Homo sapiens: one gene and its partner. The protein of the gene in region 1 purifies or fractionates together with the protein of each later gene. This does not show direct contact. Each region holds a gene or a part of one and is shown in the gene's direction. Other genes may lie near its edges.

Region 1 (5,366 bases):
AAAAACTTTAATGGGCAATTATTACATAGCAAGCACTGTTCTAAATATGCACTGGTGATAAAGAGAAGCAAGAAACATGCTTTTGGCCGGGCTCAGTGGTTCACGCCTGTAATCCCAGTACTTTGGGAGGCCAAGGTGGATAGATTGCTTAAGGTCAGAAGTTCAAGACCAGCCTGGCCACCATGGTGAAACCTCACCTCTAGCAAAAAATACAAAAATTAGCCGGGCGTGGTGACAGGGGCCTGCAGTCTCAGCCACTCGGGAGGCTGAGGCAGGAGAATCCCTTGAACCCGGGAGGCGGAGGTTGCAGTGAGCCGAGTGCCCCTGCACTCCAGCCTGGGCAACAGAGGAAGACTCTGTCAAAAAAAAAAAAAATGCTTTCAGCCCTGAAGGAGCCTGGTTTAGCAGAAGAAACCTATACAAATGTCGCCTAAATATACAAATAGACCATACCTAAAAGACCCTAGCACTGGGCCCAGTGAGGCCCACAGGATTCTATTGGGGGAGAATCAGGCACAGTTCCAGAAAGAACCCTTGAACTACTAAGTCCTGAAGGATGCGCAAAATTCTTCAGTGAGATAAAGAGAGAAATGGCAGTATCCACAGAAACTGCAGACTGGTTAGGGCCTTGTAATTCTGCGCAGCTGGAACGCAAGATTTGGGTAGGAGAGCGGTAGATGAGGTTGGAGAGACAAACGGGCTGCCTTACAGATAGACGTTCCACGAGAAGTTCGTAGTTTTTCCTATTAGGGAAGCTATGGGAAAATCCTAATCTGGGTAACGATGTAACGGGTTTACACTTTAGAAAAATCCGTGGTTTAGGACTCTACAACTCCCATGGGCGGGCTGCCCTAACCCAGGGGTTCCCACTTCCGCTGTTCCGGGATTCACGGACGACTCGCCCCCTTTTCCCAGCCTTGGTCAGCACTGTTACCCCGCCCGCCGTGCGATCCCGCCCCCCTCGGAGCGCCCCTGTGGTCTGACTTCAGCAGCACTTTCCGGCAGGAGACTGGGCACTCGCTGTCACCCGCGAGCTGCCTCCCTCAGCGAGATCTGAGCATCTTTCCGGAGGCTAACAGACCTGGGCTTCGGGGTGACCACTGTGCTTGCCTCAGTTTCCTTTTCTGGAGCAGGGGAAGGCCCGGCTCCCTGCCCAAAGGCGGCTGTGCGCTAAGTGGCAGACGCTCGGGGAGAGCCGGCGCGGGGCGGACCCCAGCGCCAGTAGTGACAGGGGCGAACGCCGCCGGGAGACTCCAGCCGGCGGGCGAGCAGGGTAAGCCAGGCCGTGGGCGGGAGGGCGGGGCAGCTCACCGGTAAAAGGCAGAGTCCCCGAGTGGGTTCCAGTTCGCCGTGTAGCAGTCCATGGCTGGTGCAGACGGCAGCTGGGAAGCACCGAGGGGACACCCACCTAGAGCGGGCTCCAGGCCGGCACTTCCGCTTCCGCCCGTCCGGGTCACGTGGCGAGGCCGCCGCCGCGGCCATCACCACTGTGGGCAGCCTCACTTGGCTGCCGCCCCGAGACCCCAGCCCGTACCTGGGCTTCGCGCCCGCCAAGTGGGCCCAGCCCTGGCTCCTGCGCCCTGTGGCGGCCACCTCCATCGCCTTGCTTTCCCTTCGGGCACTGGGGGTCGCTCAGGGCGGGACATGGGTGAACGGAAGTGGAAGCTGTGAGCGTCGCAGCCCGAGGCGCCGAGGCCTGAGGCGCCGTCGGGGCCACAGCGACGCTCGCATGGAGAGCGCTGGGCGCTGGGCTGTGCACCGACGGCTAACCTGGACCCACGGTCTCTGCGGGGCGGGAGCTTTGCAGAACCGACTGGCCGACTGGGGCGCGGGAACATGAGGCTTGGCTAGGAGCCCGCTGCGGGCCAGGCGCGCGGTGCGCAGGCATACCCGGGTCGCGGGTGAACACCGCGGAGCCCCGGGACTTGGTAATTGGCGCGAGCGGGTGCGCGCATGCGCGGGACGGCGGCGGGCACGTGGCGAGGCGCAGGGCGGCGCCGCGCGGGAAGCTCCCCAGTGCCCTGGAGGCCTGCTGGCTGGACGACCCCCTGCCTCTGGTACCAAGTGTGACCAAGGCTGGCGCCACCATGGCTCTGCTGCCGTCACCTCCTCCCTTTAGCATTGAGCAGCCCCGGAGGGGCTAGCCCTGAGGCTGACCTGCCCAGAGTCCCCACCATCGCGCTGCTTAGTGGCCTCTCCCTGCAGCCTGTCGTTGCTGGTGGCGGCATGGTCTTCTGTCTGTCGAGCGAGGAGCCGCGCCGCCCGCTGCGAAGCGACATGGTCCACTTCCAGGCCTCGGAAGTCCAGCAGCTGCTACACAACAAGTTCGTGGTCATCTTGGGGGACTCCAGTGAGTGCCTCTTCTAGGGTGACGCTTCCAGTCCCACACCTTGCAGCCCGTTCAGTGTGTCTGGACCATTTGTTTCCATCTCACATCTCTTGTCTGTCTTCTGGTCTGTTCCGTCCAGTAGGTTTTCTCTTTTTATGTCCCACACATCTTCCACAGGAGTCCTGACAGGTGTAATAACCTGTGCACTTTTTAGCCCATCCTTGCTCAGCATTTCTCGCCCTGACAGCTCCCCATAATTTCCATCACGAAAGCGTTGCATTGTGTAGTGTGTCTCCTGGGTGACTTGGCCGACTTAATTTCTGCCAGGTGATCTTGGGTCACTGTATACTGCTGGCCAGGAGGCACACAGAACAGAGGCAATGCCAGGACTTTTTAACCTCATCTTTTCTCCTGCGTCTAAGTCAACCACAGAGCTGGTGTCGGGCACCTCAGCCCTGGGAAAATGGGGTCCTGGACTTGGAAGGAGCTGGGGCAGGCTGAGGTCTGCCTCAGCCTTGGGATCTCTGTCTCCTCCCAGTTCAGAGGGCTGTGTACAAGGACCTGGTGCTCTTGCTCCAGAAAGACTCACTGCTCACAGCTGCCCAGCTGAAAGCCAAGGTGAGGGAAGCTTGGTGGCCATGTCAGTGGTGGGTGGGCACAGACCCTGGCCTGGCAGGGTTCTCCTCCCTGGCATGGGTCTGACCAGTAGGGTGGGGGGGGTGGGTAGGGGGAGCTGAGCTTTGAACAGGACCAGCTGGTGGCTGGGGGCCAGCTGGGCGAGCTGCACAACGGGACACAGTATCGTGAGGTCCGCCAGTTCTGCTCGGGCTCTGGCCACCACCTTGTGCGCTTCTACTTCCTCACTCGTGTTTACTCCGAGTACCTTGAGGATGTTCTGGAAGAGCTGACATATGGACCTGCCCCGGACCTGGTGATCATCAACTCCTGCCTCTGGGATCTCTCCAGGTTGGGGCGAGGGAAAGGGGAATACTGGTTGGGGCTGGAAGTACGGCTGAGGCAGTCCACCCTTGTGCTCTTGCCCACCCTGTGTGTTATCCAACAGATATGGTCGCTGCTCAATGGAGAGCTACCGGGAGAACCTGGAGCGGGTGTTTGTGCGCATGGACCAAGTATTGCCAGACTCCTGCCTGCTGGTGTGGAACATGGCGATGCCCCTCGGGGAACGTATCACTGGGGGTTTCCTCCTGCCAGAGGCAAGTGACTGAGGCCCATCAGGACAAGAGATGGGATAGCAGACTGGTAGATAGGACACCCTGCTTTCAGACCCTGCTGCGTTCTGTGGCTCTTAGAGGCTGCACTTTCTCACTTAGCTCCAGCCCCTGGCAGGCTCCCTGCGGCGGGATGTGGTTGAAGGGAACTTCTACAGTGCTACGCTGGCCGGGGACCACTGCTTTGATGTCCTAGACCTCCACTTTCACTTCCGGCATGCAGTACAGCACCGTCATCGGGATGGTGTCCACTGGGACCAGCATGCACACCGCCACCTCTCACACCTGCTTCTGACCCATGTGGCTGACGCCTGGGGCGTGGAGCTGCCCAAGCGTGGCTATCCCCCTGGTGAGCCCTACCATAAGTGGGGGGGTAGTGATGCACTGGGGCCCTCAGAGGACAGGGCTCAGAAACAGAATGGGACACAGCCACTCAAGGGAAGTAGAGGTCCCTTGAAGGACTCCTGTGGCTTCTGCATGCACCTTCCTCAACCCCTGAGGAGGGTTAGATCATCGGAGCAATATTCTTGTCCAAGTTCCAGTTTTCTACAGTCTGGCTGTGTAGTCATTTCTGTGTGCTTGAAGGAGCTTGTACAAGTATTGACCACATAAGGCAGCATGTTGCAAGGGTCCTACCCAACAGATTAACAGGAAAGAAATGGGGCATGGGTGTGAGGAGTGGAAAGACAGGGAGGAAGGGCCATCCAGGCAGTGTGGCAGAAGCAAAGAAGCCCACAGCTGGGGGGTGGGGGTACAGTCAACTGGCAGGGTGTGGAACAGGGATGTTGCATCGGGAAGGCCAGCCTTATGGACTTGGGCTCAATGGACAGTGTTCCATAGGCTTCTTAGTTCAGCCTCAGAGTCCCACTGTGACTGGTGCAGCTTGGTGTAGCTCTCCTCGGGCCCCATCTCTGGGCCTTTGGTGGAGGCTTCTGAGGGCCCCACTCCCCCTTGTTTTGAGGCACTGCTCCCCATCACATCTCAACTGTAACACTCTGCTGCAGAACCTCTGTTTCCATGTCAACACCCTAGTCCCTGCATGCACACAAAGAGGGCACCATGGCTGATTGTCTCCATGGCTGCTTCTCCCCTGCATCGTGTCCTTAAAGGGCAAGTTTCCTGCTGCACTTGTTGACGACTCACCCCTTTCAGCCCCAGTGTCTAGCACAATTTCCCTGTACACAGTATCAACAGAATTGTATTTGTTGAATGGGAGGCACGAGTCATGTTAGAAGGCCGATTATGGCAGCACAAGAGGATGTGGGGGCACAGAGAGTCCAGGAATATCATAGAGACAGACCTGTAACACTTGGTAGCCAGGAGTTGGAGCATCAGGGAGGTGAATACAGATTTTGGTTAAACATCCCCATTTTCTTGTTTAGATGTAATAATTGATCCCCAGCAAATGATGGGATGCCCTGAAGGTTGTAAGGCTAGTTTTGATGGCTTAGGCCTTTGAAATCCAATTTGGAGCTACAGAAGTTAGGGCCATGAAAAGGGAGAGTTGATTTGGGGTGGAAGGATGAGTTGGTGAGTTTGGTCACAGCAGATTGATTTGAGGTTCTTTGGAAATACAGAGTAGATTTGCAGTCATTGGTACCCAGCAGAGAGATTAAAACTGAGGGCACAGTGGCAGCTGTGAGGGAGACAGAACGATGCTCATGCTTTGGATTGGCAGGAAAGAGGGGCTATGGCGGAAACAAAAGGAGATGAGGGCAGGGGCACTTTTAGGAAGGACTGAGGCTGCTGGCAGTGTCACATGACTGTTGAGAAGAAGGGAATTTGTTAGCAAGTGGTTACATTTAGTA
Region 2 (5,204 bases), on another chromosome or scaffold:
TTTTACGTTCAATATTCCTAAAACTCAGCTTCAAGCTAAATTGTATTATCTGCTTTTCATAGATGAGTAGTGAGCCCTGAAGAAGTGAAATAATTTGCCCAGGGTCACAGAGCTAATTGATGGATTGGAATTTTAACTCAACTCTGCCTAACTCCAAAGTATACAGTATACTTTCTCTACAAAGCTCTACTTTTTGAGGCTTCAAATAAATTACATTTATCCTAAAAGTGACATTACTTTTACTAGAACTTGAAAATATGAGTCTGTAGCCTACTGAGACTGCTTTTGATTCCCGAAAGCACAGTAGATAAGGTAATGAAAAACATGTAAACGAGCTGAAAAGTCTCCACTGTCTAGGGCTTTGATTTTCAAAGTGTGCTTCTCAGCTGGGCATAGTAACTCACGCCTGTAATCCCAGCACTTTGAGAGAGCAAGGTGGGTGGATCACTTGAGGTCAGGAGTTCAAGAACAGCCTGGCCAACATGGTGAAACCCTGTCTCTACTAAAAATACAAAAATTAGCCAGGCATGGTGGCAGGCGCCTGTAATCCCAGCTACTTAGGAGGCTGAGGCAGGAGAATCACTTGAACCCGGGAGGAGGAGGTTGCGGTGAGCCGAGATCACACCACTGCACTCCAGCCTGGGTGACAGAGTGAGACTCCATCTCCCACCCCACTACCCACAAAAAAAAGAAAAAAAAAGTGTTTCTTAGACCACCAGCATTAGCATCACTTGGGAATTTGCTTGAAATGCAAATTCTCAGGCCCTACCCAGATCTGTAGTTTTCTGATTATGTATAATCAGAAAGTCTGGAGGCTAGGCCCAGCAATCTGTTTTACAATACCTCCAGTTGATTATAATGTATGTTAAAATTTGCGAACCACTGGTCTAGGGAAATTATTTCCTAACTAGTGTTTTATTTCTGCTTCTATTGAGTTTTAGCCTAAGTCTCAATCGTTGAGTGCAAAATTAGCATTATTGCATAGTGGCAAGGACATGGAGTCACACAGGAGCTAGTTGAATCCTGGGTCATCAAGAATTTCAGGGCCATGCATGGTGGCTCACACCTGTAATCCTAGCACTTTGGGAGGATCATTTGAGGTCAGGAATTGGAGTCCAGCCTCGCCAACATGATGAAACCCCATCTCTACTAAAAATATAAAAATTAGCCTGGCATGGTGATAGGCGCCTGTAGTCCCAGCTACCCAGGAGGCTGAGGCAGGGGAATCACTTGAACCCAAGAGGCAGAGGTTGCAGTGAACCGAAATCATGCCATTGCACTCTAGCCTGGACGACAGAGCAAGACTCTGTCTCAAAAAAAAAAAAAGTATTTCAGGCAAGTTCACCTCCCATAGTTTCCCATCTTTGAAATGATATTAATAACATCTATCTCCATGTAAGATTTTTTTTAGAATTAAGTAAGATAATATGTAAAGTGTCTAGTACATTGCTAGGATCCCAGGTGTTTGAGAAATTGCATCTAGCAATTTTTCTTGTTAGCAAAGAGCGCCCACCTCCATCTGTTCTAAACTCCTCTTGTTTCTTGAATGTATTTGCTGTCTTTTGTCTCTGGGGCTTTGTATTAACTGTTATCTTTTGGCATCCAACCTCCTACCCCTCTTTACCTCACTAATTTTATACATCCTTTAGATCCCTGCTATAGTTACTCCCCCTGGAGGGGGCTTTCCCTAACCCCCACCCCCCCAGTCTCTATAGCAGTCTGTATTTCTATCACTGCATTTATCACACCACTTTGGAATCATCTGTCTCCTGTATAAACTTCATTGAGGTAGTGTCTTGTTCACTGCCATATTCCTAGGGACAAGTAAAGTTCCCTGTATATTGTAGGAGCTAAGTGTTGAATGAATGAATGGTGGCTGCTATTATTGCTTCACCTTCACCCTCCAAGAGTAATCTCCCCATTCTGGTTTATAGTTTCTGTGCTCACTGCTTGTGATAATTGTAAGTATATATTGTTGAGAACAGTGCCTGTTTTCTCTTTCCCTGAAAACACATACTTTGACGTTGGCTGACGTAGTTCACTCAGCTGTTCCTAACCACTGATCCCTCTGTATCACAGGTATCTCGGGGGAGCTTTGTGCCTTGATGGATCAAGTTCATCATATGCAGCACTCAAAATGGCAGCATCCTTCGGACCTCACCACGCGGTGAGTGGGTGATTAGAAGAAGATGGAAAAGGGTAGAATGGCTGGGCGCGGTGGCTCACACCTGTAATCCCAGCACTTTGGGTGGCCAAGGTGGGTGGGTCGTTTGAGACCATCCTGGCTAACATGGTGAAACCCCATATCTACCAAAAATACAAAAATTAGCTGGGTGTGGTGGCAAGCATCTGTAGTCCCAGCCTCAGGAGGCTGAGGCAGGACAGTTGCTTGAATCTGGTGGCGAAGGTTGCAGTGAGCCAAGATGGTGCCACTGTACTCAAGCCTGGGCGGCAGAGCAAGACTCCGTCTAAAAAAAAAAAAAGAAAAGGCGGTGGGGGGGGGGCGCGTGAAATTTGGCTGCAGGAGGAATGTAGTGGGGAGTAGGGGTTGGAATTGTTTAATTCAAGAGGCAGGGGGAAAAAGTGATGCAGTATAATGGAATAAGAACTGGACTGAGGCTGAGCACAGTAGCTCACGCCTGTAATTCCAGCACTTTGGGAGGCCAAGGCAGGAGGATTGCTTGAGCCCAGGAGTTCGAGACCAGCCTGGCCAATGTGAGACCCCGTCGCTACAAAAAATACAAAAACTTAACTGGGCATGGTGGTGTGTGTCTGTAGTCCCTGAGAGTGCCTGAGAGAAAAGGATTGCTTGAAGCCCAGGAGCTTGAGGCTGTGATGAGCAATGATTGTGCCACTGCACTCCAGCCTGGGCAACAGGGCGAGACCCTGTCTCAAAAAACAAACAGACAAAACAAAAACTGGACTGAAATTCAGGAAACCTGAGTTCTAATACTAGCTTTGCAACTTGGTGTCAAAGGACCTTCCTAATTCTGAAATCTTCTGGAATTTTTTTTTTTTAAGACTCAAATTTAGTATTACAGTTTTCTGGATTCTTGATGCAGTGTGGCTGTACAAATTTATTCAGTTACTTTGATTCAGATACTCAAAAACCTTGGAATCATCTTTTACTTTTTTCTCTCTCACCCCATATTCAGTCTATCAGCAAATCCCATAGGTTCTGCATATACAGTTGTCCTTGGTATTCATGAGGGATTAGTTCCAGGACCCTCTCTGGATACCAAAATCCACAGATGCTCACGTTCCTTATATAAAATGCCATAGTGTTTGCATAACCTGTGCACATCCTTCCATATACTTTAAATCATCTCTAGATTACTTATGATAACTAATACAGTATAAATGCTATGCAAATAGTTGTTATACTGTATTGTTTAGGAAATAATGACAAGGAAAAATGTCTATACATGTTCGATACAGATGGAACCATTCATTTTTCTTCTTTGAATATTTTTGACCCATGGTTGGTTAAATCCATGGATGTAGAACCCATGGATATGGAGGGTCAGCTGTATATCCAAAGCCTAACTATTTCTCATCATTTGACCTGGATTGTTGCAAGTCTCCTAAATGGCCTCCCTGCTTCTGCCCTTGCCAGTGCACTGTTCACAACTCAGCAGCCAAAGAAAGAGATTCTTTTAAAGCATAAATCACATTTGCTCAATATTTCCCAGTGGCTTCCCATCTCACATCTTCCCATTCTCGTAATCCCCTACAAAGGCCTATATGCTTTGGCCTATGCTCACCGACCTCATCTCCTAATACTCTTCCTCTTGCTTCAGGGCCTTTACAGTCATATTCCCTCTGTAGTTGTCAAAATCATAGCATTTCTCAGAAGGAAAGGCAGTGTAGTGTAATTGTTAATAGATAAATTCTGGAGTCAGATGTGAATTCAAATCCAGTTCTGCTTACTCTACTCTATGACCTTGGGTAAATTATTAACCTGAGGCTCAATCAATTTCCTTACCTATACAAGGACTTAATGAAAATACTAGTAGGATTGTCACAGTATTAAGTGAGGAGAGGTATTTAAAGAATTCAGCAAGTACTTGCATATAGGGATAGATAAATGTCAGGTACTGTTACAGTTATTTTCAACCCTGGCGACTACTCATAATTACCTGTGGAGATATCTAAAAATACAGATGTTTGTATCCTGATTCCAGGTATTCTAAGTCATTAAGTCTGGGAGGAGGGAGAGGCCAAGAATCCATATCTGTATTTGTTTTTTCTTTTTCTTTTTTTAAATTTTAGAATGCGTATCTTCAGAAAGCTTCCTAGATTATTAGGAGCACTTTCAGAGTCAAAAATGGGATCAGATTATCTCAGAGCGTCTTGCTCAGAACTGCAGCCCAGCACATAACTAAATGAGACTTTTAAGAAATTTTACTGTGAGTCTGTGCTGTTAATTTTTCAGTCTCTAAACTCACATGATGACTTACCTTTCTGGGAATTTATTCTAATTTTAACTGCTGTGTCCTGAGCAACCTTGAGCTGTGTCAGACAATGAGGTCCTTTTGGAGGTACAGGTGTGATGCAAACAATAAAATATAGATCCTATCCTAAATTCTTCTGGAGGAATAAAATGGTTTTTTTTTTCTCCCCTACTTAAACATTATTCTACATTAGTTTTCCTTAGAATATTGTGTATATGGCACATATCACCATAATACCTATGGGAATTAGGTGGCTTTGGGAGTTGGAAAGAAATAGCACTTACGGTGTGGTGTTCATATAAATGAAATAGTATAAAATTTCTAAAATTGTGAGAATTGAAATATAAAATTAATATCTGATTTCCAAAAGTAAAGATCTTCTTAAAATTGTTGTGCTGGCCTTTTTTTGTGTACAAATAGCCATTCTAGTTGAAATAGCCTTCCTGTTTGTACTCTCCCTCTCTCGATAGAAACTACGCCCGCCGACAGAAACATCTGCAAAGATACAGTCTGACTCAGTGGGTTGACAGGAACATGCGAAGCCACCATCGGTTCCAGCGTCTCCCAGACTTCTCGTACAGTTAATTTGTGTCATCCCATCAGCAATGAAGGTCCCTATCCAGGGTCCTGCTTGGAGCAGCATTTCATGTTCTTTTGCTGTTTTGTGCTTTGCCGATTTTGGATTTTATTTTTCACAAAATTTTTATTTAAAAAACTCGTCACCTTTTGGAAATGCCCATTGCCGACTTG

Evidence for each region.
Region 2: the proteins of PCED1A (region 1) and S100PBP purify together in Homo sapiens (affinity purification with mass spectrometry; one large-scale study listed by BioGRID and IntAct). This does not show direct contact.

What each region holds. Positions count from the first base shown.
Region 1 is NC_000020.11:2,836,773-2,842,138, reverse strand, and holds the start of PCED1A (PC-esterase domain-containing protein 1A), read left to right. Parts: upstream 1-1,483; 5' UTR 1,484-1,928; exon of another isoform or gene 1,929-2,205; 5' UTR 2,206-2,226; coding exon 2,227-2,350; intron 2,351-2,867; coding exon 2,868-2,947; intron 2,948-3,056; coding exon 3,057-3,295; intron 3,296-3,392; coding exon 3,393-3,543; intron 3,544-3,660; coding exon 3,661-3,907; intron 3,908-5,366. Other genes in the region: VPS16 (vacuolar protein sorting-associated protein 16 homolog), read right to left, coding at 1,312-1,364.
Region 2 is NC_000001.11:32,851,000-32,856,203, forward strand, and holds part of S100PBP (S100P-binding protein), read left to right. Parts: intron 1-2,079; coding exon 2,080-2,167; intron 2,168-4,924; coding exon 4,925-5,039; 3' UTR 5,040-5,204.